Regions from separate parts of the Homo sapiens genome. Here regions 1, 2, 3 and 4 are each reported to be linked to region 5. The links are microRNA targets in miRTarBase. Many come from high-throughput screens and were not tested one by one. Region 5 holds a microRNA gene; each other region holds the end of a gene's coding sequence.

The links. Region 5 holds the annotated microRNA hsa-miR-361-3p (UCCCCCAGGUGUGAUUCUGAUUU, at 1,720-1,742, opposite strand). A microRNA usually pairs through its seed, bases 2 to 8, with sites in the 3' UTR of a target mRNA and lowers its output. Matches are read on the target gene's strand: a 7mer-m8 pairs with bases 2 to 8, a 7mer-A1 pairs with bases 2 to 7 and ends in A, and an 8mer does both.
Region 1: miRTarBase lists VWA2 as a target of hsa-miR-361-3p. Seed matches in the 3' UTR shown: 7mer-A1 at 4,189-4,195.
Region 2: the mRNA of DMPK is a reported target of hsa-miR-361-3p. Seed matches in the 3' UTR shown: 7mer-m8 at 3,319-3,325.
Region 3: miRTarBase lists NCAPD3 as a target of hsa-miR-361-3p. Seed matches in the 3' UTR shown: 7mer-A1 at 5,350-5,356 and 7mer-A1 at 5,195-5,201.
Region 4: the mRNA of FBH1 is a reported target of hsa-miR-361-3p. Seed matches in the 3' UTR shown: 7mer-A1 at 2,162-2,168.

What each region holds. Positions count from the first base shown.
Region 1 is chr10:114,289,457-114,296,080 of GRCh38, reverse strand. VWA2 (von Willebrand factor A domain containing 2) reads right to left here. Exons shown (of 14, transcript NM_001272046.2): 12 at 6,592-6,624; 13 at 5,716-5,841; 14 at 1,592-4,863. The coding sequence ends at 4,844. AFAP1L2 (actin filament associated protein 1 like 2) reads left to right here. Exons shown (of 19, transcript NM_001001936.3): 19 at 13-1,257. The coding sequence ends at 39. Among named protein-coding and RNA genes, the nearest start is that of VWA2, 54 kb to the right of the region's middle.
Region 2 is chr19:45,766,938-45,773,525 of GRCh38, reverse strand. DMPK (DM1 protein kinase) reads left to right here. Exons shown (of 15, transcript NM_004409.5): 10 at 774-885; 11 at 1,598-1,755; 12 at 1,861-1,958; 13 at 2,130-2,176; 14 at 2,466-2,555; 15 at 2,886-3,809. The coding sequence ends at 3,038. It overlaps SIX5 (SIX homeobox 5), which reads left to right and starts at 4,274. Exons shown (of 3, transcript NM_175875.5): 1 at 4,274-5,484; 2 at 6,371-6,588. The coding sequence starts at 4,682. It overlaps DM1-AS (DM1 locus antisense RNA), which reads right to left and starts at 5,730. Exons shown (of 2, transcript NR_147193.1): 1 at 5,395-5,730; 2 at 1,643-2,036. RefSeq lists enhancers at 2,935-3,014, 3,455-3,564, 3,725-3,804, 5,296-5,855, 5,920-6,555 and 1 more and silencers at 2,385-2,894, 3,135-3,294, 3,819-4,003, 3,855-4,394, 4,755-4,974 and 1 more.
Region 3 is chr11:134,146,799-134,153,379 of GRCh38, forward strand. It overlaps NCAPD3 (non-SMC condensin II complex subunit D3), which reads right to left. Exons shown (of 35, transcript NM_015261.3): 33 at 6,491-6,565; 34 at 6,342-6,402; 35 at 3,315-6,254. The coding sequence ends at 6,146. JAM3 (junctional adhesion molecule 3) reads left to right here. Exons shown (of 9, transcript NM_032801.5): 7 at 1,749-1,878; 8 at 1,966-2,020; 9 at 2,348-5,203. The coding sequence ends at 2,383. SNORD153 (small nucleolar RNA, C/D box 153) reads right to left here and starts at 4,565; the gene lies at 4,490-4,565.
Region 4 is chr10:5,935,338-5,941,961 of GRCh38, forward strand. FBH1 (F-box DNA helicase 1) reads left to right here. Exons shown (of 21, transcript NM_178150.3): 20 at 1,119-1,250; 21 at 1,773-2,256. The coding sequence ends at 1,943. LOC105376384 (a long non-coding RNA gene) reads right to left here. Exons shown (of 2, transcript NR_188180.1): 2 at 1,714-2,172. Among named protein-coding and RNA genes, the nearest start is that of IL15RA, 39 kb to the right of the region's middle.
Region 5 is chrX:85,901,922-85,905,921 of GRCh38, forward strand. MIR361 (microRNA 361) reads right to left here and starts at 1,786; the gene lies at 1,715-1,786. All of the region lies in intron 9 of CHM (CHM Rab escort protein), which reads right to left.

The sequences.
Region 1 (6,624 bases), not on the chromosome of region 5:
ATGGTACCCTAGGAATGGGAGAAGAAAGGAGCAAGTTAGAAAACAAGCTTCATCTAAAGACTCTCATGTCAATGTGGACCTTGGTGACAATCCTGCTTTGTTAAAGCAAAAACTATGCGAAAGGGTGAGTCTGTTTAGAAGAAAAAGCAAAGACTGAGGTACTGTGAATGGAGAGCTTCAGCTAAGAGGAGGCTCTGTCCCTTTTCAGAGCCAAAGGAAATAATACAACAAAAAGGAGGCTTCTTTGGAGACCTAAGTCTATTGGATGTAAACAAGACGTTGTATTTAGGGATGTTCTGTGTTTCTTTCTTTTTTGAAGTTGTCATCAATTGCTTTACTAAGATTTTTAAATAGTGAAAACCTCCTGTTTAGACTTTGGTGGAAGATGAATCAAGGAAGCAGGGCCCTGTCTTATGGGTCACGTGTCTTTGGTGAGTGAGAAGACCTAAACTCCTGGCCATCATCTCTTATCCAATACTTAGCAGTTGGGGATTAAACCATCCTTGCCTTCAGTTCTCTCCAATATTACCAGGCCCAACTCAGTCTTCAGTGATTTTAAACAGCATTGACATCATCTGTAAAACCATCATCTGTAAAACCATCTATGACATGAGTTTTGAGAAACAATAATGGGGAAAATATTTGGGACCAAGCTGAAGCACTAATCCCACTAAGTTAAAGACTTCTTTCCAGTCCAAGGCAGGCCTGAATCAACTGTCTTTAAATAAAATTTTAAGTGATGCTGTATTATATATAGGAAAAAATGCTTAAAATCCTGTCATTTAGAACAGTGAAAAGTATCTTTTGAGATTAAAGTGACTCTTTACTGTAGGAAAAATATTACTCTGTGTTTACAGATTCATTGCTGTGGTCAGGCCATTTTTAAGGGAAGAGTTATTTAATATAAATAGTCTCTGATTTTAAGTTCTGTTTAATGTTCATTCTCCTTCCAAGAACAAAGTGGTGATTTTTGGTTAGGGTGATCGCCCTCTTAAAATTGGCAGTGCTGTTCCTTGTGCTGCCCCTGTCTTTTCCTCTGATGGCATTTTTTTTTTTTTTTTTTTAACACAGGTTGAAACATTTCATCTATTATCTCTGCCTCATTTCTGGAGGGTTGTGTATCAGTTCTCTAACACTTGTTCCTGAGAACTAAATGTCTTTTTTATTCTTATTTCCTCTCTCATAAACATTTGGTGACCTTTTACCAAGTGGTGAGTTAGTTAGGTTTTTTAAAATAAAATGTTCATTGTATTTGAAGTTTTCCTCAGTTCATGAAATGACTTGGGGCAGGGCCTGGGGGGTTCTCAAGGGAGGAAATGTTTTGGTTATTTACACACTGAACTACAAGATGGGATCCTAGCAGGAAACTCAGCCTCCTTGAATCAAAGAGCATAGATAAGGCTGAAAGCAAATTTTAGTTGTACAGTTAACAACATACCAAAGACACAGGAAACATCTGCAGAAATTGATCATATATAAGTGAATGAAAAATCAGTACTCCTCCCAGAAGTTAAATATACTCCTAAAGAATTCTTGGGAAAAAAGAAACATACCAATACTGGGAAGGTTGCCTAAGTAGTAATTAAGGAAGTTTATAGCATAAATGTGTTTATTTTAAAAATGACAAAATCAAAATCGGGTTCATTAAAGAGACAAATAGACAACCTAAGGCAATATGAAATAGCAGAACTGAAATGGAGGCCTTAATACAGATACTGACAAGATTTTTCAAATTATAAAAAAATACTATGAATATATCAGTGTAAAAGTTTGAGAAATATGTATTTTCCATTATAAGGTTAGTATAGCTCTGATACCAAAAATTCAAAACAAATTGCAAAAGAAAACAAATCTCATTGTTGGACACAGATTAAAAGAATCTGAAATAAGATGTTGGCAAATGAAAAATTCAGCAGGGTTTATAGAATGATGCATAATGACCAAATAGAGTTTATCCAAAAAAATCAAGGGTTGTTCAATGATTGAAAATACACAAATGGATAACCTATCACATTAACAGATAATACAAAAAATGCATTATCTTGAGGAAGAAAAAGCATACCATAAATCTCAACATGTAATAAACACTCTTAGTTCATCTAGGAATTAAGCATTCTTAAACTGATAAGTAACCCATAGAAAACAATTATTATGATGAAAAAGTCAAGAACCAGATATGGATACATGCTACTTCATGAAACATTATTCTGGAGGTCCCAGGCAATGCAAAATGACAAGAAAAAGAAGTGGTATACAACTTTGAAAGGAAGAGACAAAACTAGCATCATTTGGAAATATTTCTCTAGAAAAGCAAGAGTCAATTATTAGAACTAGGGTATTCAACAAGATGACTGGAATCAGGATCGTTCAGAGAAAATAAGGAAATTTATGGCCTATATGCAATGTTTTAATTATTGCAAGGAAAATATATTTCTGTCTTATTTGAATAAGTAATTAAAGGTAAAAATTAAAGCTAATTTCTTTTAAATGAAAGAAAAAAGGCTTGGCTAGTTAGGCCATAGGATAGCACTTTCCTGGGGGACTGACAAAAGCTGAACTATTTAGTGGCACTGTCACTACAAAAGGGGAAAAAATGTTTCAAAGGCGAGAAACCCATTTCCTACAAAGAAACAGTAAAGGCCCTTACTATGTAAGTCGAGAGCCCACAGTTTGCTGTTTAAATCCAAGTAATTCAATCAGGGCACCCAAATACCAGCCCGGAACAAGACAAAAAGCCTACATTATAACATGGTTAAACTGCTATTTAAAGACAATGCATTCATGTAATTTCTATGACATCACTGATCAGCATCTGCTAGGGAGCATGTGATCCTGCCCCGGACGTTGTCTTCTGTGAAGGGCAGCATAATAACAAAGTTATCAATGAAAGTATCCCTTGAATATAGATGATTATGACTCAATGTCTGGTACACCAGACTTTTTAATATCTAAAATCTTGGTGATACTGCTTCAAGCGCTTTTCTAGCACCAGAAATCCTGAAGTTCTTAAAGCCAAAGTACCCTTGAATGTTTGTCTATAAAACATTATGTTACAATATTTATAAAGAAAAATGGGCCAGGCACAGTGGTTCACCCCTGTAATCCCAGAACTTTGGGAGGCCAAGGCAGGGGGATCACCTGAGGTCAGAAGTTCGAGACTAGCCTGGCCAACATGGTGAAACCCTGTCTCTAACTAAAAATACAAAAATTAGCTAGGCATGGTGGCACCTGCCTCTAATCCCAGCTACTCAAGAGGCTGAGGCATGAGAATCACTTCAACCTGGGAGGCAAAGGTTGCAGTGAGCCAAGATTGTACCACTGCACTCTAGCCTGGGCAACAAGAGCAAAACTCCGTCTCAAAAAAAAGAAAAACGATAAAGTGTCTGGAGTCACATCAGAGCTCTAGAAAGATTTCTACAGAAAATCCAACTCTAAACAACACAACCAAGGAGAAGAAGTAATTCCTAAATACTGCAGCGATAGGGAAGTAAGTATCTAGTTTGCCAGAGAATATTCCAAATATGCCTCTTTGCCACATAGGTACAAATATCCCTGTTTAATAAATAACCAACATTTCTTGAAATATTTCTTTAAAAACTGTGTAGAAAAGCAAAGCAAAACAAAATTAAAACCTAGACAGCGTAAGATCAATGCTTTAAAAAGCAAAATCTCTGTAAGTTTCTTTATCCTATATTTTTGAGTTTAAGAATCTTACTTCTCTTTGCCCCACTAAAAGGAGAATAAGGAAAGAATTCCATAAACACGCCACAATTAACCCCTCCTAAGTACATTTTTTTCTTTTTGAGACAGATTTTTACTCTTGTTGCCCAGGCTGGAGTGCAGTGGTGAGATCTCGGCTCACTGTAACTTCCGCCTCCCAGGTTCAAGCCATTCTCCTGTCTCAGCCTCCCGAGTAGCTGGGATTATAGGCATCCACCACCACCCCCGGCTACCTTTTGTATTTTTAGTAAAGACAAACTTTCACCACGTTGGCCAGGCTGGTCTCAAACTCCTGACCTCGGGTGATCCACCTGCCTCAGCCTCCAAAGTGCTGGGATTACAGGCATGAGCCACAGTCTCTGGCCGCAGCCTCTTTTGAAAGGAAGACCCTTCAGGTGGACACTGCTCACGACTCAGAACGATTTTACGTGGCCCCTCCAGACCTGGGCCCATTGCACACTCAGCCCCTCCCCCATCATCAAACAAGCTGGTTAATTGGTCACATTTCAGTCTGAGACCTTTCCAAGTCTCTTCCACACACAAAAGGCAGTCGCCAGAAGTCACAAACGTCCCTCAAGCCCCCTTTCAGACTCAATGCAAATGCATCCAGAATGTCTCTGGGGAAGTGGAAAAGCTGCTGCTTTCCATCTTGAAAGGCCGTGGCCTTCGCCGTCCAAAGGATGCTCTAGTAAAGGCCTCTGCTGGGCATTACTGTGTCAACAACATTCTGGCGAGCATTGATTGTGTGCAAAGGAACGTCAGGCCGCTAAATTTAAGTCTTCAGGACCCCTTGTTTATCCTCAAGGGAAAGGTGGCAGATGACATAGCCTCAACAAGGCACAGCAGGTACAGAAAGTGGGTATTTACTTACACATCAAAACTTTTCAACAACATCGTTTGTGGGTGACATCAGCTGCTTTCTTGTCTCTAAGCAGCATGGCTGCAGTTGGGACATCCTCCTCCCTCAGTGAGAATAGTGGTCCTGGCCACGGCGGGAAGCAGACATTCTAAGGACCTGGGGCACAGACATTCCAGAAGGTAGGCACCATTTCAGTGCCCAGGCCTTCTCTGTAGTTGCTGGGAGGGGTACGGCTGCTGCCCTCCTGCACGGGAGCCATGTGCCTCAGGGGCGTCTCAAGAATCCTGGGGAAGGAAGTGAAGTCTGAGGACAGGAGTGTCTGCATCCCCTTCTCAGCCCTCCAGCAGCCTCTGAGGACCCCTTCAGGTCCTGCTCTTACTCTACAACCCACCTCGCCCCCAGCAGAAGATGCCAGATTAGAGACCCCATGTGATTATCCTCCAGAGCTTCTCTCTGGCCTTAGGAAGCCAACCTCTGCCCGTGGCCAAAAAACCAAGGCTCCGACTGGACTTGTCTTCTGATTTCTGGCTGTTCTAACTTCAAACTCATGAACAGGAGCCATAGTTGGACCTCTAATGCCTCCCAACGATCACTCTCTAGGTCCTAATCTGTTACCCTTGACAATGACTTCTTTTCTCTCAAACCTCTAGCACCTCCTCCTCGTCCTCACTTAGCTGTTCCTCCCATTTTACTGAGCAAATAGCACCCCAAAAAGAGCTTCCAGCAGCTCCCACCACCGCATTTACCCATCCCTGCCTCCGTCTACATCCCTGTACCCTGGATCTACTGTGCTCCTAACTGTGGCCTCCCTCCTAGTTGTCATGACTTTCTCCGGGGTGCTTAGCACCGTCTACCACACCACATGTTGTATTATTTGCTTATTGTCTGTCTTCCCATTAGAATGGAAGCTCCATGAGGGCAGAGGTTTTATTCATTTGTTTACTGCTATGTTCCTGCACTGAGAACAATGCCTGGGATGCAGGAGGTACTCACTAAATGTTTCGTGGGTAAACGACTGAATAATTTCTTCCACTGAACGAATGTTTTAGAACCTGCCTTCAGCTGAGTTTGTGGGACTTGGCAGGACTCGCAATACCATCCCTGGCTCACACATACAGAGCAAGAGCTCCACTCACGGTTCTCGCAGTGGGGGCCCTCCCAGCCATCCCGACACTTGCAGCGGTAGCTCCCATTCTGCAGGACGCAGCTGCCCTCATTCATGCACGGGCTGGGTTTGCAGAGGTTGACTGGCTGCTTGGCTTCTACAATGGAGAACACCATACCCACCAGGCCGGCCAGGCATGGGTTAGACCCGAAGACCCCTACCCTAAGTAAGCCCAGTAGAGGTGCAAGGCTACTAGAGTCATGTCTCCCTTTGCCCCGGTAGCTCATGGTTGGTGCTGCATACCACTTGGCTAGGTTAGTAAGACCCAGCTCTCCTACAGACTCATGGAGAGTCCATTGCTCAGACGTGCCATACACATGGCAGACTTTTTTTTTTTTTTTTTTGAGGCAGAATCTTGCTCTTGTTGCCCAGGCTGGAGTACAATGGCGCGATCTTGGCTCACCACAACCTCCACCTCCCGGGTTCAAGTGATTCTCCTGTCTCTTTTAAGAAGGTGAAGAGGAGGTCACTGGATTTGGGCTGGCCTGGCCCTGTTTGCTCTGGGCTCTGTCACTGCCCAAGTCAGTGTGAATGTGGGATCTTTAGACCCTTAGGAAGCTTGTGGATATTCTAAAAGTGTGTTCTGTTTAAAGGGAATGCATAAATTCTCAAGTTTGGGGGGAGTTATCTATGTTAGTTAAACTTTCTGTACCTTAAATGTCAAATAGGATGGTTATGCCTACTGTAGGATTTTATGTGAGCATGGGGTTTAGCACAGAACCTGGCACTTGGGAAGCAAGTGCTCAGTAGCTGGGAAGAGCTGCCATCCTCGTCATGATGTATGTGAAGGCTCAGGCTGAGGGCCTGCCATGGGGGCAGCCCTGAGGGTGTGGATTCCCCCACTCACCTCCACACAGCCACTCAATGAGCACGTCCTGGT
Region 2 (6,588 bases), not on the chromosome of region 5:
ATAGTGGAGAACAGGTGTTTTTTTGGTTTGTTTTTTTCCCCTTCCTCATGCTACTTTGTCTAAGAGAACAGTTGGTTTTCTAGTCAGCTTTTATTACTGGACAACATTACACATACTATACCTTATCATTAATGAACTCCAGCTTGATTCTGAACCGCTGCGGGGCCTGAACGGTGGGTCAGGATTGAACCCATCCTCTATTAGAACCCAGGCGCATGTCCAGGATAGCTAGGTCCTGAGCCGTGTTCCCACAGGAGGGACTGCTGGGTTGGAGGGGACAGCCACTTCATACCCCAGGGAGGAGCTGTCCCCTTCCCACAGCTGAGTGGGGTGTGCTGACCTCAAGTTGCCATCTTGGGGTCCCATGCCCAGTCTTAGGACCACATCTGTGGAGGTGGCCAGAGCCAAGCAGTCTCCCCATCAGGTCGGCCTCCCTGTCCTGAGGCCCTGAGAAGAGGGGTCTGCAGCGGTCACATGTCAAGGGAGGAGATGAGCTGACCCTAGAACATGGGGGTCTGGACCCCAAGTCCCTGCAGAAGGTTTAGAAAGAGCAGCTCCCAGGGGCCCAAGGCCAGGAGAGGGGCAGGGCTTTTCCTAAGCAGAGGAGGGGCTATTGGCCTACCTGGGACTCTGTTCTCTTCGCTCTGCTGCTCCCCTTCCTCAAATCAGGAGGTCTTGGAAGCAGCTGCCCCTACCCACAGGCCAGAAGTTCTGGTTCTCCACCAGAGAATCAGCATTCTGTCTCCCTCCCCACTCCCTCCTCCTCTCCCCAGGGACAGTGAGGTCCCAGGCCCCACACCCATGGAACTGGAGGCCGAGCAGCTGCTTGAGCCACACGTGCAAGCGCCCAGCCTGGAGCCCTCGGTGTCCCCACAGGATGAAACAGTAAGTTGGTGGAGGGGAGGGGGTCCGTCAGGGACAATTGGGAGAGAAAAGGTGAGGGCTTCCCGGGTGGCGTGCACTGTAGAGCCCTCTAGGGACTTCCTGAACAGAAGCAGACAGAAACCACGGAGAGACGAGGTTACTTCAGACATGGGACGGTCTCTGTAGTTACAGTGGGGCATTAAGTAAGGGTGTGTGTGTTGCTGGGGATCTGAGAAGTCGATCTTTGAGCTGAGCGCTGGTGAAGGAGAAACAAGCCATGGAAGGAAAGGTGCCAAGTGGTCAGGCGAGAGCCTCCAGGGCAAAGGCCTTGGGCAGGTGGGAATCCTGATTTGTTCCTGAAAGGTAGTTTGGCTGAATCATTCCTGAGAAGGCTGGAGAGGCCAGCAGGAAACAAAACCCAGCAAGGCCTTTTGTCGTGAGGGCATTAGGGAGCTGGAGGGATTTTGAGCAGCAGAGGGACATAGGTTGTGTTAGTGTTTGAGCACCAGCCCTCTGGTCCCTGTGTAGATTTAGAGGACCAGACTCAGGGATGGGGCTGAGGGAGGTAGGGAAGGGAGGGGGCTTGGATCATTGCAGGAGCTATGGGGATTCCAGAAATGTTGAGGGGACGGAGGAGTAGGGGATAAACAAGGATTCCTAGCCTGGAACCAGTGCCCAAGTCCTGAGTCTTCCAGGAGCCACAGGCAGCCTTAAGCCTGGTCCCCATACACAGGCTGAAGTGGCAGTTCCAGCGGCTGTCCCTGCGGCAGAGGCTGAGGCCGAGGTGACGCTGCGGGAGCTCCAGGAAGCCCTGGAGGAGGAGGTGCTCACCCGGCAGAGCCTGAGCCGGGAGATGGAGGCCATCCGCACGGACAACCAGAACTTCGCCAGGTCGGGATCGGGGCCGGGGCCGGGGCCGGGATGCGGGCCGGTGGCAACCCTTGGCATCCCCTCTCGTCCGGCCCGGACGGACTCACCGTCCTTACCTCCCCACAGTCAACTACGCGAGGCAGAGGCTCGGAACCGGGACCTAGAGGCACACGTCCGGCAGTTGCAGGAGCGGATGGAGTTGCTGCAGGCAGAGGGAGCCACAGGTGAGTCCCTCATGTGTCCCCTTCCCCGGAGGACCGGGAGGAGGTGGGCCGTCTGCTCCGCGGGGCGTGTATAGACACCTGGAGGAGGGAAGGGACCCACGCTGGGGCACGCCGCGCCACCGCCCTCCTTCGCCCCTCCACGCGCCCTATGCCTCTTTCTTCTCCTTCCAGCTGTCACGGGGGTCCCCAGTCCCCGGGCCACGGATCCACCTTCCCATGTAAGACCCCTCTCTTTCCCCTGCCTCAGACCTGCTGCCCATTCTGCAGATCCCCTCCCTGGCTCCTGGTCTCCCCGTCCAGATATAGGGCTCACCCTACGTCTTTGCGACTTTAGAGGGCAGAAGCCCTTTATTCAGCCCCAGATCTCCCTCCGTTCAGGCCTCACCAGATTCCCTCCGGGATCTCCCTAGATAACCTCCCCAACCTCGATTCCCCTCGCTGTCTCTCGCCCCACCGCTGAGGGCTGGGCTGGGCTCCGATCGGGTCACCTGTCCCTTCTCTCTCCAGCTAGATGGCCCCCCGGCCGTGGCTGTGGGCCAGTGCCCGCTGGTGGGGCCAGGCCCCATGCACCGCCGCCACCTGCTGCTCCCTGCCAGGGTACGTCCGGCTGCCCACGCCCCCCTCCGCCGTCGCGCCCCGCGCTCCACCCGCCCCTTGCCACCCGCTTAGCTGCGCATTTGCGGGGCTGGGCCCACGGCAGGAGGGCGGATCTTCGGGCAGCCAATCAACACAGGCCGCTAGGAAGCAGCCAATGACGAGTTCGGACGGGATTCGAGGCGTGCGAGTGGACTAACAACAGCTGTAGGCTGTTGGGGCGGGGGCGGGGCGCAGGGAAGAGTGCGGGCCCACCTATGGGCGTAGGCGGGGCGAGTCCCAGGAGCCAATCAGAGGCCCATGCCGGGTGTTGACCTCGCCCTCTCCCCGCAGGTCCCTAGGCCTGGCCTATCGGAGGCGCTTTCCCTGCTCCTGTTCGCCGTTGTTCTGTCTCGTGCCGCCGCCCTGGGCTGCATTGGGTTGGTGGCCCACGCCGGCCAACTCACCGCAGTCTGGCGCCGCCCAGGAGCCGCCCGCGCTCCCTGAACCCTAGAACTGTCTTCGACTCCGGGGCCCCGTTGGAAGACTGAGTGCCCGGGGCACGGCACAGAAGCCGCGCCCACCGCCTGCCAGTTCACAACCGCTCCGAGCGTGGGTCTCCGCCCAGCTCCAGTCCTGTGATCCGGGCCCGCCCCCTAGCGGCCGGGGAGGGAGGGGCCGGGTCCGCGGCCGGCGAACGGGGCTCGAAGGGTCCTTGTAGCCGGGAATGCTGCTGCTGCTGCTGCTGCTGCTGCTGCTGCTGCTGCTGCTGCTGCTGCTGCTGCTGCTGGGGGGATCACAGACCATTTCTTTCTTTCGGCCAGGCTGAGGCCCTGACGTGGATGGGCAAACTGCAGGCCTGGGAAGGCAGCAAGCCGGGCCGTCCGTGTTCCATCCTCCACGCACCCCCACCTATCGTTGGTTCGCAAAGTGCAAAGCTTTCTTGTGCATGACGCCCTGCTCTGGGGAGCGTCTGGCGCGATCTCTGCCTGCTTACTCGGGAAATTTGCTTTTGCCAAACCCGCTTTTTCGGGGATCCCGCGCCCCCCTCCTCACTTGCGCTGCTCTCGGAGCCCCAGCCGGCTCCGCCCGCTTCGGCGGTTTGGATATTTATTGACCTCGTCCTCCGACTCGCTGACAGGCTACAGGACCCCCAACAACCCCAATCCACGTTTTGGATGCACTGAGACCCCGACATTCCTCGGTATTTATTGTCTGTCCCCACCTAGGACCCCCACCCCCGACCCTCGCGAATAAAAGGCCCTCCATCTGCCCAAAGCTCTGGACTCCACAGTGTCCGCGGTTTGCGTTGTGGGCCGGAGGCTCCGCAGCGGGCCAATCCGGAGGCGTGTGGAGGCGGCCGAAGGTCTGGGAGGAGCTAGCGGGATGCGAAGCGGCCGAATCAGGGTTGGGGGAGGAAAAGCCACGGGGCGGGGCTTTGGCGTCCGGCCAATAGGAGGGCGAGCGGGCCACCCGGAGGCACCGCCCCCGCCCAGCTGTGGCCCAGCTGTGCCACCGAGCGTCGAGAAGAGGGGGCTGGGCTGGCAGCGCGCGCGGCCATCCTCCTTCCACTGCGCCTGCGCACGCCACGCGCATCCGCTCCTGGGACGCAAGCTCGAGAAAAGTTGCTGCAAACTTTCTAGCCCGTTCCCCGCCCCTCCTCCCGGCCAGACCCGCCCCCCCTGCGGAGCCGGGAATTCCGAGGGGCGGAGCGCAGGCCGAGATGGGGAATGTGGGGGCCTGCAGAGGACCCTGGAGACGGAGGCGTGCAGAAGCTCAGTCTCGGGGCGGAGGCTTCGCGCCCTTAGTCCTCCTGGACGGCCCGTTACCTTCTGCGTTGTCCCGATGGGGAAACTGAGGCCCTGAGCCAGAAGCACACGCTGGGGGGAGGCAGAAAGCGCGGCCAGAGGCGGAGGGAAAACAAAGGGAGAATCACAGACAGACGGGAGGGGGACGGACACACACAAGGGGACAGAGACCCGAGTGGAGAGCTGGATCTCGCCTTCCCGGCGTGGGGCGCAGGGTCGGCCAGAAAGAAGATCGAGAAGAGCGGGGAGTGGGGGCGAAAAGGGGGGACAGGTGGGGGAGGAGGCTGGGGAAAGCCCGAGGGAGGAAGAGAGGGAGGGAGGAACTTCCCAAAGTTGCAAAACATGGCTACCTTGCCTGCGGAGCCGAGCGCGGGGCCGGCGGCTGGGGGGGAGGCGGTGGCGGCGGCGGCGGCGACCGAAGAGGAGGAGGAGGAAGCGCGCCAGCTCTTGCAGACTTTGCAGGCGGCCGAGGGTGAGGCGGCGGCGGCGGCCGGGGCCGGGGCGGGCGCAGCGGCTGCGGGAGCTGAGGGCCCGGGATCCCCGGGCGTCCCCGGGTCGCCCCCCGAGGCCGCTTCCGAACCGCCCACGGGCCTCCGCTTCTCGCCCGAGCAGGTGGCGTGCGTCTGCGAGGCGCTGCTCCAGGCGGGCCACGCCGGCCGCTTGAGCCGCTTCCTGGGCGCACTGCCCCCGGCCGAGCGCCTACGTGGCAGCGACCCGGTGTTGCGCGCGCGGGCCCTGGTGGCCTTCCAGCGGGGCGAGTACGCCGAGCTCTACCGGCTACTCGAGAGCCGCCCCTTCCCCGCCGCCCACCACGCCTTCCTGCAGGACCTCTACCTGCGCGCGCGCTACCATGAGGCCGAGCGGGCCCGCGGCCGCGCGCTTGGCGCAGTGGACAAGTATCGACTGCGCAAGAAGTTCCCGCTGCCCAAGACCATCTGGGACGGCGAGGAGACAGTCTACTGCTTCAAGGAGCGCTCCCGCGCAGCGCTCAAGGCCTGCTACCGCGGCAACCGCTACCCCACGCCGGACGAGAAGCGCCGCCTGGCCACACTCACCGGCCTGTCGCTCACGCAGGTCAGCAACTGGTTCAAGAACCGGCGACAGCGCGACCGGACCGGGGCCGGAGGCGGCGCGCCCTGCAAGAGGTGAGGGGCCTCGGGCGGCGCAAGTCCAGCTCTCCCGGGGACATCCCGTCCACCAGCCCTCTTCCCCCGTGCCCACTGCTGGGGCCGGCGCGCCGAGGTCCTCGGACATCTCCCGGGACCAGCTCACAATCTCAGGCGCCCGCGGGGCGCGGGGACTAAGTGTGGACGGGACAGGCACCCGCCCGGGCCCTCTCCCCGCACGCGTCTCCTCTTCCAGCGGCTCCATTCCGAGCTCCTTCCCAAATCCCATCGGTGTTGGGGAATCACACTGCGGGGGGCACTAGAGGGACTGAGGAAAAAGGACAGGGCCTGTGGCCACTCCACTCCGCGTAGGGGCTGCCTCCCAGCCCCCTTTCTTCACTGACCGTTACTCTTACCCACCCGCCCCCACACTCCCTCCGGGCCCGGACGGCGTGGTCCGTCTTCTGCCTTTGTTGTGAAACGTGAACCTTTCCCAGCTCCGGTTTCCCTGTAACCCAAACCCTTCTCCTCCCACCCTGAGCGCCGGCCTCTCCCTTCTCTGACGCCCCGCGGGGAGGGCACCGGGAACTGGGCTGGCGGCTGCTGCTCCCTCTCTCCAGGCCACTCGCCCGCTTTCCGCCCAACCAAGGAACTTTTAGGGCAACCTGGGAGCTCAGCCTCTGGGGACCCGAGGCCGAGGTGGGGGAGAGCAAGGGCCTCTTCCCTCCCCAGCGCTTCTCTGCAGTGGTGTCCACGCAGGGCTTGCAAAAGGCCCTGGAGTTTGGAGTGGTCTCAGAGAGGCGTCATAACCCCTGGAATGATCCACCGAAACTTGGGCCAGGGAAAGGTGGGGGAGCAGCTGGCTGGCTATGCGGGAGGCCCCACAGGCTAAGGGACCCCAGCTGACAGCCATTTCTCCGGCCAGCGAGTCTGATGGGAATCCCACGACTGAGGACGAGTCCAGCCGAAGTCCTGAGGACCTGGAGAGAGGGGCGGCCCCAGTGTCCGCCGAGGCCGCTGCCCAGGGCTCCATATTCCTGGCAGGGACCGGCCCTCCCGCGCCTTGCCCGGCTTCCTCCTCCATCCTGGTGAACGGGAGCTTCCTGGCAGCCAGCGGCTCCCCAGCAGTGCTCCTCAACGGGG
Region 3 (6,581 bases), not on the chromosome of region 5:
AAGCAATCCTCCTGCCTCGGCCTCCCCCAGGTGCTGGGATTAACAGGCATGAGCCACTGTGCCCAGCCAGGAGCATTTTTTGAATCCTTCCCTCCTCCCTATTTGGAGCTCTCCTCAGAGCAGCATTTTCCAAAACTGCCTGGTGATACCCATTTGGGACCACTGTTTCACATACAGATTCGAGCCCACCTCAGACATATGCTAGAAATGTCTGTGTGTGAGACAAGCGTTCCGAAGGATTCTTCTCATGTGTCACGTTTGAGAAACTCTGCTCTAGGGTTGTTTTCTCCTGCAGTTTTGCCCCAGACCTACTTTAGCCTATTGACTTTTTAGTGATGAAACTTGGGAATTGACATTTTAACATCAAAATTGCATGCCAGGCGTGGTGGCTCACACTATAATCCTAGCACTCTGGGAGGCTGAGGCGGGTGGATCACCTGAGGTCAGGAGTTCAAGACCAGCCTGGCCAACATGCCAAAACTCTGTGTCTACTAAAAATACAAAAATTAGCCTGGTGTGGTGGCAGGCGCCTGTAGTCCCAGTAACTTGGGAGGCTGAGGCAGAAGGATCCCTTGAACCCGGGAGGCGGAGCTTGCAGTGAGCCGAGATTGCACCACAGAACTCCAGCCTGGGTGACGGTGACGGAGCAAGACTCTGTCTCAAAAAAAAAAAAAAAAAAACGATTGCAAGTTTACTTTTTGTTTTTGAGATGGAGTCTCGCTCTGTCACCCAGGCTGGAGTGCAGTGGCACAATCTCGGCTCACTGCAAGCTCCGCCTCCCGGGTTCACACCTTTCTCCTGCCTCAGCCTCCTGAGTAGCTGGGACTACAGGCACCTGCCAACACGCTCAGCCAATTTTTTGTGTTTCTAGTAGAGACGGGGTTTCACCACCTTAGCCAGGATGGTCTCGAATCTCTGACCTCGTGATCTGCCCACCTCGGCCTCCCAAAGTGCTGGGATTACAGGCGTGAGCCACCGCGCCCGGCCTGCAAGTTGATTTTTAAGTGTACATTCATCTTTGAGAACCAATACACTAGGATAAAGGAGATTTTTTTAAAACTTCCAAGTTACTTGGCTCTTGTTGATAAATTCCCTGCATAGTTTTCCATGTGTCGCTTGCTTGAAGGAACGGCTGCCAGAGCCCCATATGAAAGTGACCCAGTGCCTTTGCCCAGTGTATAGACATGAGAAAAGGGTTCCAGGGGGTTTCCTCTCAGAGGGCTTATAGATCGGAGGTCAGGCAGCCGGCAGAGACAAAGCTCTAGTTCTTACCTAGGATTCTTTACTTGTTTGTTTTTTGAGACAGATTCTTTAAGGCTTGAAGCTACCTTTCTTCCCCGCAGCAATCTGCAACAAAGGGAGGCCCTGGAAATTAGGGATTCTTTTCTTCTTGGGATCCTGGCTCCTAATCTTGTCCTCATAACCATTTCCTCCATAAGTAATCTCAGGCATTCAGCCAGAGGATTTTTAAGCCTACAGTGCCAAGCCCACTTTAATACACTTTTCAGTGCGACTGCATTTCAACTGTAGAAGTCTCAGTACTTTTCACGTGTGAAGTTAGGAGTTATGGTGTCCTATATGTTCTAGGCTAGAAGGATTGTAAGTGTTCTCTCTTCTAGCTGGGGTAGGCCTGAGGGGGCAGGGGGCAAGTGGGTTTGGGGTGAAGGAAGGAGGCACAGCAGGGCCAGGGCCTTTTTAAATAACAGATAGTGTGTATCATGGCTTCCACCAAACCTCCTTTTCTTCAGATGACCTGAACATTGGCGGAATTATTGGGGGGGTTCTGGTTGTCCTTGCTGTACTGGCCCTGATCACGTTGGGCATCTGCTGTGCATACAGACGTGGCTACTTCATCAACAATAAACAGGATGGAGAAAGGTGAGCCTGCCTTATGTGAAAAAAGGGAAGTTCAAGCTGGCAATAATATAACAACCCTGTTGCTAAACTGCTCTCTTCTCCTCATAGTTACAAGAACCCAGGGAAACCAGATGGAGTTAACTACATCCGCACTGACGAGGAGGTAATCATTTAGTAAACCTGGAAACCTAGGTGTACCCAGCAGGGAAAACAACATTCCCCCTTGGAAACCACACGGGTCTCCTGGGAAGATTTCTGAGTGATTGTGCAGCTCCTGAGCTCCTCAGCCCCTTCACAGTAACACACACACACACACACACACACACACACACACACACACTAATGGGATTTGTGCTTTGCAAGCGCTAGTGATGGTACTTTTTAAGAATGATTATTCCATCTGTATTTAGCCCATGTTAGACTTACTCCGTGTTTTTCCCTGCTTGCCACCAGGCCCCTTGATGGCTCTAACTGTGTGTTGGCTTTGCAGGGCGACTTCAGACACAAGTCATCGTTTGTGATCTGAGACCCGCGGTGTGGCTGAGAGCGCACAGAGCGCACGTGCACATACCTCTGCTAGAAACTCCTGTCAAGGCAGCGAGAGCTGATGCACTCGGACAGAGCTAGACACTCATTCAGAAGCTTTTCGTTTTGGCCAAAGTTGACCACTACTCTTCTTACTCTAACAAGCCACATGAATAGAAGAATTTTCCTCAAGATGGACCCGGTAAATATAACCACAAGGAAGCGAAACTGGGTGCGTTCACTGAGTTGGGTTCCTAATCTGTTTCTGGCCTGATTCCCGCATGAGTATTAGGGTGATCTTAAAGAGTTTGCTCACGTAAACGCCCGTGCTGGGCCCTGTGAAGCCAGCATGTTCACCACTGGTCGTTCAGCAGCCACGACAGCACCATGTGAGATGGCGAGGTGGCTGGACAGCACCAGCAGCGCATCCCGGCGGGAACCCAGAAAAGGCTTCTTACACAGCAGCCTTACTTCATCGGCCCACAGACACCACCGCAGTTTCTTCTTAAAGGCTCTGCTGATCGGTGTTGCAGTGTCCATTGTGGAGAAGCTTTTTGGATCAGCATTTTGTAAAAACAACCAAAATCAGGAAGGTAAATTGGTTGCTGGAAGAGGGATCTTGCCTGAGGAACCCTGCTTGTCCAACAGGGTGTCAGGATTTAAGGAAAACCTTCGTCTTAGGCTAAGTCTGAAATGGTACTGAAATATGCTTTTCTATGGGTCTTGTTTATTTTATAAAATTTTACATCTAAATTTTTGCTAAGGATGTATTTTGATTATTGAAAAGAAAATTTCTATTTAAACTGTAAATATATTGTCATACAATGTTAAATAACCTATTTTTTTAAAAAAGTTCAACTTAAGGTAGAAGTTCCAAGCTACTAGTGTTAAATTGGAAAATATCAATAATTAAGAGTATTTTACCCAAGGAATCCTCTCATGGAAGTTTACTGTGATGTTCCTTTTCTCACACAAGTTTTAGCCTTTTTCACAAGGGAACTCATACTGTCTACACATCAGACCATAGTTGCTTAGGAAACCTTTAAAAATTCCAGTTAAGCAATGTTGAAATCAGTTTGCATCTCTTCAAAAGAAACCTCTCAGGTTAGCTTTGAACTGCCTCTTCCTGAGATGACTAGGACAGTCTGTACCCAGAGGCCACCCAGAAGCCCTCAGATGTACATACACAGATGCCAGTCAGCTCCTGGGGTTGCGCCAGGCGCCCCCGCTCTAGCTCACTGTTGCCTCGCTGTCTGCCAGGAGGCCCTGCCATCCTTGGGCCCTGGCAGTGGCTGTGTCCCAGTGAGCTTTACTCACGTGGCCCTTGCTTCATCCAGCACAGCTCTCAGGTGGGCACTGCAGGGACACTGGTGTCTTCCATGTAGCGTCCCAGCTTTGGGCTCCTGTAACAGACCTCTTTTTGGTTATGGATGGCTCACAAAATAGGGCCCCCAATGCTATTTTTTTTTTTTAAGTTTGTTTAATTATTTGTTAAGATTGTCTAAGGCCAAAGGCAATTGCGAAATCAAGTCTGTCAAGTACAATAACATTTTTAAAAGAAAATGGATCCCACTGTTCCTCTTTGCCACAGAGAAAGCACCCAGACGCCACAGGCTCTGTCGCATTTCAAAACAAACCATGATGGAGTGGCGGCCAGTCCAGCCTTTTAAAGAACGTCAGGTGGAGCAGCCAGGTGAAAGGCCTGGCGGGGAGGAAAGTGAAACGCCTGAATCAAAAGCAGTTTTCTAATTTTGACTTTAAATTTTTCATCCGCCGGAGACACTGCTCCCATTTGTGGGGGGACATTAGCAACATCACTCAGAAGCCTGTGTTCTTCAAGAGCAGGTGTTCTCAGCCTCACATGCCCTGCCGTGCTGGACTCAGGACTGAAGTGCTGTAAAGCAAGGAGCTGCTGAGAAGGAGCACTCCACTGTGTGCCTGGAGAATGGCTCTCACTACTCACCTTGTCTTTCAGCTTCCAGTGTCTTGGGTTTTTTATACTTTGACAGCTTTTTTTTAATTGCATACATGAGACTGTGTTGACTTTTTTTAGTTATGTGAAACACTTTGCCGCAGGCCGCCTGGCAGAGGCAGGAAATGCTCCAGCAGTGGCTCAGTGCTCCCTGGTGTCTGCTGCATGGCATCCTGGATGCTTAGCATGCAAGTTCCCTCCATCATTGCCACCTTGGTAGAGAGGGATGGCTCCCCACCCTCAGCGTTGGGGATTCACGCTCCAGCCTCCTTCTTGGTTGTCATAGTGATAGGGTAGCCTTATTGCCCCCTCTTCTTATACCCTAAAACCTTCTACACTAGTGCCATGGGAACCAGGTCTGAAAAAGTAGAGAGAAGTGAAAGTAGAGTCTGGGAAGTAGCTGCCTATAACTGAGACTAGACGGAAAAGGAATACTCGTGTATTTTAAGATATGAATGTGACTCAAGACTCGAGGCCGATACGAGGCTGTGATTCTGCCTTTGGATGGATGTTGCTGTACACAGATGCTACAGACTTGTACTAACACACCGTAATTTGGCATTTGTTTAACCTCATTTATAAAAGCTTCAAAAAAACCCAAACATTGCTTCATTCTTTGTTATTTGCTCTTACGTTGGGTTTGTCTCTTCTTCCTAGCATTTCAGTGGTTAGGCATGCACACTAAAAATGCTATCAATCACCCATCCACCAGGGAAGTCAGTGCTGGGCAGGAGGTCAGCCTGTGTGCTCAAGAGCAGTGCTGCGCCTCTCCGCCACCGAGCCCACCTGTGTTGCGGTTCCCACTTGGGATGGCAGTGGGCAGATCTCAGTGGCATCCCATCCCCCAAACCAACCAACGCACATCATCACTTTGTACTTTTGCTTTTGTAATACTGGGATTAAAAAACAAACCAACTGCATTTCTTTCTGGATATTGTTGAACAAAAATAGCATTCAGTTTACCCACTAGTGCTAACAGAAGAGACTCAAGCTGTTCCCCCATCATGGGAGCAGCCCTTAACAGAGGGCTGCACAAATCGGCAGTGCTGCTCTGGGGAAGGCTGCAAAGCCATTTTTTCCCAAGAAGGGATGCTGTTCATGTCTGTTAGGGAAAGCACACCGCCTCTGCCTGGGCACAGATGAACTGCCCTTCAAGACAATCATCTTTTTTCTAATAGGGAAGATTTGGTTTCATTCCTCTAACAAACAAACATGCTTTATGTAAAATTAAAATGATTACCAATAAGAGCTCTGTTCTAAAAACAGAAAAATCCTATTGACTACTGGAAGGCTGTATTTATGCTAAACCTTTATTACTTTTAGAAAGCTGTACACTTTTTTAAAAAATTTGCACTTATAAATAATAGAAAAAATATTAGAATCAAAATTTCGTCATTACAGATGGGAAAATATGTACTATAAGGAATTCAAGTTAACAGAGGCTTGATTTATATAAAAGAAAGCTGCAGTTTTAAAGTTGTGTTCCTTAAAGACCAGATTATAGCTTATCTGAATGGGCTTGACACTTTCAAATGGAATAAAGTTACAATATTAAACAGATTAGGGTAAGAAAATCTAAATCTGGCACATCTCTATTATTTGACAGTGTTTAACCAAATACATCATACAGAATAGAAGGTGAGTGCCAGGCCCCTGAGGAGGAGCTCTCGTGTTCCACAGCAAAGCGCTGCCCAAGGACTGCGGGAAGTGATCCAGCTGCCTTCACACGGAGGACACGAGACTGCTTCCTCAAGGGCTCCTGCCTGCCTGGACACTGGTGGGAGGCGCTGTTTAGTTGGCTGTTTTCAGAGGGGTCTTTCGGAGGGACCTCCTGCTGCAGGCTGGAGTGTCTTTATTCCTGGCGGGAGACCGCACATTCCACTGCTGAGGCTGTGGGGGCCTAGGGAAAGGACATGTGCAGTCATTCTGGAACTCAGAAAAACCCTGACAGAAACATCCACCTCAAAAGGAACACTGCTAAACTTACGGTTTATCAGGCAGTGATAAACATAAGATGTCATTTCCTTGACTCCGGCCTTCAATTTTCTCTAAAAGGGAGTCAAACAAACACATTCAGCTTTCCCAGAACCTCAAAGGCAGTGCATCTATCAGCCCAGAAGGACACCAAGAACTTGCCTTTGGCTGACGACGGAGTCCGTGGTGTCCCGATGTAACTGACCCCTGCTCCAAACGTGACATCACTGATGCTCTCTGCATAAAGAGGAGA
Region 4 (6,624 bases), not on the chromosome of region 5:
TTTAGAAAACCTAGGTGAGGAGGAAGCCAGAAGCGTAACATTCATGTAAATTAGACATCTATAAAAGGAGACCTGTGTCCTTGGACACGTGTAAACGAGAAGCTATTTCACCGTGGGTTGGAGGGACCTCGCCAGGTTCATGGTCTTGGCTGTCTCTCGGGAAGGAAATTGAGATGACAGTCCAAGGGACTTCAGCAAAATCTGTGACTTCAGACAGGATTTCACCTCGTCAGCTGTTAGTACTTGTTGGCCATAACTGGAGTGTTTGCCTGGTGGTTTTCTGTTCTTTTTCATAGCTGGTAGGCAGGCCGTCTAAGAGAAAAGACCAAATAAATCAAAACGTAGGTTACAGATTGTAGAATAAGTAGATCAATAGCTGGTCATAATCCAGAAAATACGAAACCGTCCTTTCCTGGGCAGCAGATGTGTGCGGTCCTGCTAGCATATCAGTCTGTGATGTGGAGCCCCACAGGGCAGCAGCGAAGCTGACAGTGCCCTGTCCTTGTGGTGTTTCCAGCCTGGGAGGTCACTAGTGCTTCCTCTGGGTGCTCCCTGCGTGCCAGGCGTGAGTGCTTTGCATGCATTGAAGGGTTTCTTCTCCTCAGCAGCCACCTGAAGCAGGCACCGTGCCATCTGCATTTATGGATAAAGACACAGGCTTAGCGAGGCTGTCATTTGCTCACTAGCACAGCCAGCAGCACGGGACGGTGGAAATACGCAGGGATGTTTGGGGCAAGTTTTCTTCATGTCCTCTGTGTTGCCTGCCTGGCTTATAATGTGAATACACAATAGTTTTCTGAAGATTGAGCTGGGGATACCTTAGCATAAAATAAAATCCAGAAATATTCTGGAAATGTCATTACAGGCAATAGTTTTGCATGTTTATCTGTTAAATATATATATATTTAAAAAGCAATTGGACTGTCAGTTGGACTGTCGATAGCTTTGGAGGCAGGGAAAAGTTAGAGGAAGTAAGGGAGAACGGGTTAGGCGGGGTTTTTCTCTCTGGGACTTACAGTGCATCTAAAGGGTTCTCACAGAGCCGCCGCTATCAGTGTTTCCAGTAGACCCTAACGGAGGTGTCGCCATGACTCTCTTTCTCGCTCTTTCTTTCTCAGGAGTACTTCTTGCAAGCAGAGCTGACAAGCAACGTCTTAAAAACAGGCGTGGTGCGCTGCTGCGTGGGACAGTGCAACAATGCCATCCCTGTTGACACCGTCCTTACCATGAAGAAGCTGCCCATCACCTATGTACGTCTGCTGTCTGTGGAACTTAATTCAGCCATTTGCATTTTTTGCTTGTGAGCTCTGTGCTTATCTGGGTTGTAGGTGAGGAGATAAGAGAGAGCTGTGTGATCCTTTATTAGGGGCTTTTCATATGAGAGGCACAAGAGGTGTGTGGTCTGTCCCAGGGTCAGAGGTCAGGGCACGTGATGCTGCCTGGCTGTGCTGAAGCCGCAGGTCTGGGAGGCTGGGTTGTGATACACGCTTAGAGAGAGAGCTGTTCCCTGGGGTCCCAGCGCAGCTTTTCTTGGTTCTTTATCTTGACTGGATAAATGACTGTTTCTGAGCTCAGGGAATTTGGGGGTGTTGAGGCCACCTAGTTGGTGGTGCTGTGGGAGGTGTTACTCTGAGGATGTGCACCCCTCTGAAAACATCAGAATCCAAATGCGTTGTCCCTGGGCAGCTGTGATGATAACTCCATGCTTTTTGCTGGAAAATCCATGTTCTTTGGTTGTTCCCCTTAGCTCTCTCTCTTGTCCATCACCACAGAGCAACAGGAAGGAAAACAAGGGGGGCTACCTCTGCCACTCCTGTGCGGAGCAGCGCATCGGGCCCCTGGCGTTCCTGACAGCCTCCCCGGAGCAGGTGCGCGCCATGGAGCGCACTGTGGAGAACATCGTACTGCCCCGGCATGAGGCCCTGCTCTTCCTCGTCTTCTGAGGACAAGGCGCACGTTCTCCGCAGTGCAGAGCAGCTTGCCGAGGACCCCGCGTGAAGAAAGCCAGCGAGGGGGGCTTCTGCTCCCTGAGACTCTGGGTTCACCCACAGCACTTTCTGAGGAAGAGGACACCAGCCCAAGCTGGACCTGCCATTTCTCCACTCCCTACAGACAGCCAGTCTCCACTTGCCTCCCCTCTGGATGTATCTGGTCAGGGAAGTGGGGGATGTTCTTTTGATAAAAAAAAAAAAAAAAATTTATGTATTTAAACTTTTATTACAAGATTTCAATTAAACAGGCACCATAGCACTGGCATACCGCTGTGTGATGTCTGCGTCAGCACTGTCGTTCTGAACCTTCTCTTTTTCCAGCTTACTCTTTCCTACAGCACTGTCACTGTTCACAAGACACAGGAAGCAGAGTATGAGACGTGATGTCTTGGGTGGGAACTGAGGCATCAAAAATGAGACTTTGGCCGGGAGCAGTGGCTCACACCTGTAACCCCAGCACTGAATCCAGCCAAGGCAGGAGGACTGCTGGAGCCCAAGGTTGAGGCTGTGAGCCGTGGTCACCTCACAGCTCACTGTACTCCAGCCTGGGTGACAGCGGGACACTGTCTCAAATAACAATAATGTTTTAAGGAGGTCAGATAAATTACAAGGCTAACAGGATCATAATCTCAGCAAGAAATGACCCCAGATGGGCTGGACCACAGCGCCTGTGGGGCCTGGTGAGGAGGGAACGGATGCGAAGATCAGTGGTTCTCAAAGTGTGGTTCCAGCAAGCAGCGGCAACATCACCTGGGAACTTGTTAGAAATAAAAATGTTCAGTCCCCACACCAGGCCTACAGGATCAGAAACTCCAGGGTTGAGGCCCAGCTGTTCGTACATAACAAGCCTGACAAGTGATGCTCATGCATGCTAAGTTGGGAAACTTCTGCTCTTGATGTTTAGAAGGTAGAATCGGTCGGATTTCTGGAGTACTGGGATCATGATAGGGACACTCAGTGGTAGAGGTCATCTTCACTGAGACAGGGAAAATGGGAGCTATAGCAGGTTTGTGTAAACGCAGTGATCAGTTTGGTTTTCAGCATGTTGAGTGGAACCGTCTAGGAGGCTGTTGGGTGAACACATCTGTCCTGCAGCAAAGGGCCTGGCTGGACCTGGGGACTTTATAGAGTTGTCGGTGTGTAGGTGGTGGTGCAGTTTGAAGGGTTTCGCCGAGTTAATCCAGGAGAGTTTAGACAATGAGAAGAGCAGAGGGCCGAGAAGCAAAGCCGGCGGACACGAGGCTTGGGGTGAAGAGAGGAAGAGGGTTTAAGAAGAGCGACAGCTGATCCAGAGGAGCCTCGTGATGGAGCACCACTGAGCTCCGGAGAGGAGGGAGTTCAGGAAAAGGGGATCTTCAGCATCCAGTGCAGTAAATAGACCAAATAAACAAGGGTGGGCAGGTGTTTAACCAGCACTATCAAGGTCAGTTGACATTAGCTGATCAGTTTCAGTTAGGTGAGAAGCCGACCACTGTGGCCTAAAATGTGAGTGAAAAATTTGAGGGCTAAGAAGTATGTGTTCATTTATGGTTTCTTTCTGAAGCCATACTGTAAGGGCAGTAAAAGTTGTGTGTGTGTGTATGTGTGTGTGTGTTTTAACCCTTAAGGGCAAAGACAACAGGAAGGAGGCAGCAGTGATCCTGGAGGCATCAGGATCATCAAACATCTGAAGATGACCCGGCCCCTAAGATGAAGGCTAGAGGTCAAAACCAAAGAATCAACTTGGAGCAAACTGTCTGTACAGGGAGAAGAAAACATCTAAATATCTTTAACACATTCAGAGAATGGAGGAGGTAGTGCATTCCATAGAGTAGCAGGATAGATATGTATAAAATAATATTTGGGGCCGGGCGCATTGGCTCACGCCTGTAATCCCAGCACTTTGGGAGGCTGAGGCGGGTGGATCATCTGAGATCAGGATTTCGAGACCAGCCTGGGCCAACATGGTGAAACCCTGTACTAAAAATACAAAAATTAGCCGGGTGTAGTGGTATGTGCCTGTAATCCCAGCTACTCAGGAGGCTGAGGCAGGAGGATCTCTTGAACCTGGGACGCAGAGTAAGACTTCGTCTCAAAAAATAAAAATAAAATAAAATTTTGGAGCAAAAAATATGAAAAGAAACCCAGTAGAACTGTTAAAATAATAAGTTGAGAATCTAGAAAGTAGAGCAAAAACAAAGATTGAGAAGTAGTTAGAGGCTGGACGTGGTGGCTCATGCCTGTAATCCCAGCACTTTGGAAGGCTGAGTCAGGTGGATCGCTTTGAGCTCAGGACTTCAAGACCAGCCTGGCCAACATGGCAAAACCCATCTACAAAAAATGACCTGGGTGTGGTGGTGCACGATTGTGATCCCAGCTACTCAGGAGGCTGAGGCTGGAGAATGGCTTGAGCCCGGGAGGTGGAGGTTGCAGTGAGCTGAGATTGTGCCACCACACTCCAGCCTGGGTGACACAGCGAGAGCCTGTCTCAAAAAAAAAAAAAAAAGAAAAAAAAAACTAGGGAACCAATTTAAGAAGTTGAGCATCTGTGAATGGGAATTGCAGGAAGAGAAAATGGACAACAGAGTTAAGGAATTTTTAAATTTAATTTTTTTTCAGACGGAGTCTCTCTCTGCTGCCCAGGCTGGAGTGCAGTGACTTGATCTCGGCTCACTGCAACCTCCACCTCCTGGGTTCAAGCGATTCTCATGCCTCAGCCTCTTGAGTAGCTGGGACTACAGGCACATGCCACCATGCCCGGCTAATTTTTTGTATTTTTAGTAGAGATGGGGTTTCACTGTGTTGGCCAGGATGGTCTCGATTTTCTGACCTCGTGATCTGCCCACCTCGGCCTCCCAAAGTGCTGGGATTACAGGCGTGAGCCACCGCACCTGGCCGAAACATTTTTTTTAATTATGAAAATTACCTGAAACTGATGGTAAGGGTTTCTGGATTGAAATGACTCATTAAATGCCCAGGACAATGGGTGAAAATAGGCCCACATTGGCCGGGCGTGGTGGCTCACACCTGTGATCACAGCACTTTGGGAAGCTGAGGTGGGAGGATTGTTTGAGCCCAGGAGTTCAAGACCAACCTGGGCCACATAGGCAGACCCCATCTCTACAAAAAGTATAAAAAATTAGGTGTGGTGGCGCATGCCTTGTTCCCAGCTACTTGGGAGGCTGGGGCAGGAGGATGGCTTGAGCCTGGGAGGTTGAGGCTGCTGTGAGCCATGATTGCACCACTGACCACCACAGCCTGGGTGACAGAGCGCAGGACGTAGCCTGGGGGGAAAAAGGCAATGATTAGTCCTCTGGAAGGCGACAGGTTGTGTAGGAGAGAACTGTAATTGACCCCCCCCACCACCAGCTCAGTGGAGTGTACCTGCTTTCATGGCCTTCATAAGGGTGGGCGTGTTCTGCAGGTAGGAGCTGTGTGCACATGTGGAGTGAACGAGCCGAATCTTAGCCTCTGCGGCAGGAAGTCAGTCACAGTGCCTGAAACTCAAACATGGAAGCAGAAGCCCATGTGAGCCCATCATTTAGAGATATCTTGGAGATGCATAACACACACCGAGACACTCAGCAGAAAGATTTCTAAAAGTTTCCTTTTGGGAGGGGGAACGGGCAGGTGGAGGAGCTTTTTGGTAGGTGTCTTACATAACTGTTGGCTCTAAACTATGTGTCTGTATGATAGAACCATAAAATACCAGTGGGAGGTGAAGATACGGACACCACGTAGACTAGTTCTCAGAAAGCAAGGCTGGCAAGAGGCAAGAAGTGGATAGGGGATGACGTGGCCTTAGGGAGGGGTTTTTGCTTTTAAAACGAGAGAGGTTTGTGCAGGGTTATGTGTTGAGAGGAAGCAAATTCAGAGAGGAGAGATGGAAGCCAGATGAGAGGGATTGGGACGGGAGAGATGAAGGAGAAAGGGGTACGTTGTAAGTGGTTAGGGAGGAAGTTTAGGTTGCTCTCACCCAATAATTTTCTGGTTTTTTTGAGACAGGGTCTTACTCTGTCACTCAGGCTGGAGTGCAGTGGTGCAGTGACAGTTCACTGTAGCCTTGACCTCCAGGCCCAGGTGACCCTCCCACCTCAGCCCCTCAAGTAGCTGGGACTACAGGTGCATGCCACCATGCCCGGCTAATTTTTGCTTATTTTTTGTAGAGATGAGGTGTCGCTCTGTTGCCCAGGCTGGTCTGAAACTCCTGGGCTCAAGCTGTCCACCTGCCTCAGTCTCCCAAAGTGCTGGGTTTAGCGTTTGGGATGGACATAGAAGGGAATGGAGTGGAAGGTGACGGAAAACACAGGTGTGCCGGGCAGCACCCTCCCAGTTGACATCAAACACCATCCTTTTAGCTGGTATTTTTCCTTTAGCAGCCCAGGCATGAGGGCAGAGACGTCGCATGGTGGACTCAGACACAGCTTAATAAACTTAAGGCAGTGCAGCACCCCCGTGGGACCTTCCTGCCTGGGAAGCTGGTCACTGTCACGCTGCCTGCCCAGCTTCCGTCCTGTAGTGGCATTTGGTCTGTGTCTGGGAGCAACTCACTGTATCACAAAGGGACTTTGACACCCCTAGAATCAGACTATTAGCAATTTAACATGTTTTTCAAGTCTGATCCTTGCCCTTCAGTCCTTCCTAGTCACCCTGA
Region 5 (4,000 bases):
GATGAAAATTAGAATCCATCTCCTTGCAGTGCCACAAGTTATAAATGTACTTTATAGGGCTCATTATCCAAACTAATGGACTAAGGGCAACATCCTTGAAATGGACTTACCAGCATTGACAAAGCCAGTATGCAATATTTCAGGAACTATATGCAAATGACTGTGTGTTTGCTATATCTTTTGATTATGGAAATATCAATTTATTTGTGTCACAGCTTCTCCTTTGGGGAACAGAATTATTTTATTAGAAATGAACTTATGTGTTGCCCCTCATAAGATGCAAGCAAATTAATTCCAAAAGCATACTGTAAAATATACTGGTATAAGTTAAAATCTGTTCATTCACTTTAAAAATAAGCCATATAAGTGATATTTTCCAGGAATAAAGGCATTAAAAATAAAATGACTAACACTCAAGACCAATAGTGAGAGGAATTTAATTTGTATTTCCTAAAGGCAGATTATAATATGCTGGTATTTTTTAATAAATGGCATCCCACTGTTGTAAGGATAGTCTATGATGTCTAGTGATGTTACATGTACATAATAGATATTTTAACCAATTAACCACCTTTTAATATAACATTTGTAATATTACGTTAATATTTACATGATTTTTTTCCATCTCATCTCCACCTTCTTTCTCTTCTACACTTCTGTTTCTATACATACCTCCTCATATTTCATTGAACTAGAGCTCTTGCCTTATAAAATACTTAAGAAAATAGATCTGAAGTATTTACATCTGATATTCTCCAAAATAATGTTTTAAAAACTGAAAATATAAGTAATTCACTCAGTCTTCTATTTTAAAACACTCATATACCATTTGAAACACAAAGTGCTTCAGGCAATTGAGAAGAGAAATCTGCTGTCATTAAACATCAATCTCTATTTGTCCTGTAAGCACTGACAAATCTTTTTCTTACCTTTAATTCAGAGACTATGTAAAGTCAAGAGGAAATAACTGGGCAGAAAAAAGGGGTTGTTAAATTTCTATATCTTGATAGGGGCTTAGGTTATACAGATTTATCATTTGTTAAAACTCAGTTAAGAAGCACTTAAGATTTGGACCCTTCACTGTATATAAATTTACATCAAAAGAAAAACACTTAACAAATATTGAGCTCCAGGTAATAATATGCAAGCTGGAAGTATTTAGGGGAAATTTTACTGACATCTGCAATTCACAGTCAAATGCATTAAAAAGATGACTCGATACATGGATAGAGGGGTTAATATTTGGGTAGACGTGTGACTGAACAAGTTTATTAAAATGTTATAGAATCCAGGAGGTGGATATACAGGTGTTCTCTTGAAATTCCTTCCATGTCAGTATAAGTTTGAAAATGTTCATCATAAAATGTTAAAATAAAACTGGGGGAGGGGGTCAGTGTTAATATAAATCTCAGACCTGAGTGTAAGTCTTTAAAAAGGGTTCCCATTTAAACTGTATTATTAAACCTGGCCCTCAAGCTTTGTAGGCTTCTAAACATGAACGAGGTTGTTTTGGTGGTAGCCATACCTTTGGTGACAGACATTTGTTTCAAAAGTTATGATATTAGAAAGAACTAATGGAGATCACTCAAAAGGCAAGTATGGGGGTTTGGGAGTTAGGGAGCTCAACCATACCAGGAGAAGATACTAATACATGTGCCTATTTATGCTGATGCTTCTAAAGAAACGGTGATTCTCAGAGCAGGAGGAGGAAAAGGAAGCAAATCAGAATCACACCTGGGGGACTTTTTGAAATTATAAAGTACCCCTGGAGATTCTGATAAGCTCCCAAATCCCAGGAAAAAAATCACTGTCAAGCGTGCCACTGCTACTGTTGTATCTCTTATGTTGTGCTAGGTGGAGAAAAATCAAGGGCTATTGGTACAGATAAAATATTTGTTTCTGCAGAAATTGAGGTGATGGTCACATATGCCCAAGTCTCAGTCTGGTAGATGATAATAACATGACTCACCTGATAATATCACGCTGAAGTACTAAGACTCTAGGCTTAAGCAAAACTGCTCAAATCAAGACATGTTTAAGCAAGTGATAAGATATGTTTTCCTCTCAGACATTTAACTTACTGTCATATATTCAGCATAATTGGGAAAACAATGAATAAAAAAACATTGATTTTAGATCTAAATTTAGTCTTTGTATTATAAAGATTCATATAAAAAATTAGATGACATTTAATTAACAGAAAGCAGCAAAATAAACAGTGCTGCCAGAGTCATGAAAATACCCCTCCCACATAAACCTGAGGAAGGCAGGAAAGATTAAACCACGTAAGATTTAGTTGAGGGCCTTGCTGAGCCTCATAAATAGTAACTTGAGGAGGAACGTAACAGGTGTCTCCAGTTACAGGGACACAATGACCAAGCTGACCATACAAAACACTCAAGCCAGACAGAACATTTCTAGAGCTAAGCTTTCTAAATCAACAAATCACAAGTTATTCAGTTATTGGTTCAACGATATAAGTGTGTAGATAGCAAAATGATGATGAGGAAGAAAATAGTAAGATGAAAACTCAAAATCTGGAATTTGGCCCAGAAGAGGAAAAATAACACTAAAACAAGTATTCAATCTCTGTGATCTTCAGAATGAATATACCAACTAATTTTATGATAAAGAAAGCAGAAATCACATATGGAATAATTTAAAGGAAAATGTACTAAGGAAATTAGAAGATTCTCAATCACTGAAGAAAACAAAATAATTTTCCCTAGTCACTATGCCCTTCTGAGCTTTCTCAAACACATTAGTTCAAATGCTACCTCATCCATAAAACCATTTCAAATGCTTCCCACTCATTTTTCTTGGGTGAAAAACACTCTACTAGTTCTAAACACCATTAGCAGGCAAATAACTTCAAATCTATAGTTTTAGGCTCTGACTTCTGTTAAGTTCTGTATCCATATTTGTAATTGTCTATTATCTACTACTTTCTGGATAGACTCCAAGCTCCCTTTTAATAAATACTTAATTGAAAAACAAAAATTGTATATAGTCAATGTGTATAATGTAATGACTTGATATACACTGTGTAATGATTACCACAAATGAATTAACACATCTATTGCCACCCATCATTACCATCTGTGGGTGTCATGAGGAACTTAATACCTGCTCTTACCAAATCTCAAGGAAATAATATAGTATTATTAGCCAAGCATTTTTTAAAACTAGCATGCTGCAAACTGAGTTTATCATGGCTCCTCACCTGCTCCCACTCCCTTGGAATCCCTATGTCAGGCAATGGCATAATCAGCAGTTTTCCTACCTCAAATCTCTTTTTATATCTAGTCTGCTATAACATTTTGATTCCGCTTTATAAATACTTCCTGAAACTAGCCTCTTCTCTCCGTCTCCACTGATACTGCCTTAGACTCTTACAATGTCTAATATGATAATGACCTGCTAGCAAATTGGTAGTTCATTTGTTCAACATAAATGTATAGCATAACAACCATGTGCCAAGCACTGTTCTAAGAGGTAAGAATAAAAATGTTTTGCCCTAAAGGACAAGATTCAGACAGAGACAATTTTTGAAGATTCAGGCAGAGACAATTTTAAGACAATAGCAAAGTCCAGTGATAAAAGATAAGGATAGGGAATTACACAGTACTAGAAGAGGTACCTAACTCATCTTATGGTGGAGGGGTGGAGTATCAGGGAATGCTCTTTGGAGGAAGTGACACATTTGTTGCTTTTAAAGGATAACATACAGTTAAGCAAGCAAATAAGGATACAGTTATCTCAGGTAGAAGGGCAGAATTTGCGGGGTTACAAAGGCAAGTAAGAGAACAGCAGGTACAGAGACCCATGAACAGATCAGTATTATGTGACAATAAAATGAAAAGCAAGTAGGGAAGAGAGATGAGCCTAGACAGGGAGACAGAGGCCAGATTACAGAGTCTCACCCGTCATATGTCATGTAAAAAGGTCTTACACTTTATTCTGAGATTATATAAAGGCACTGAAGCTTTTTAAATAAGGA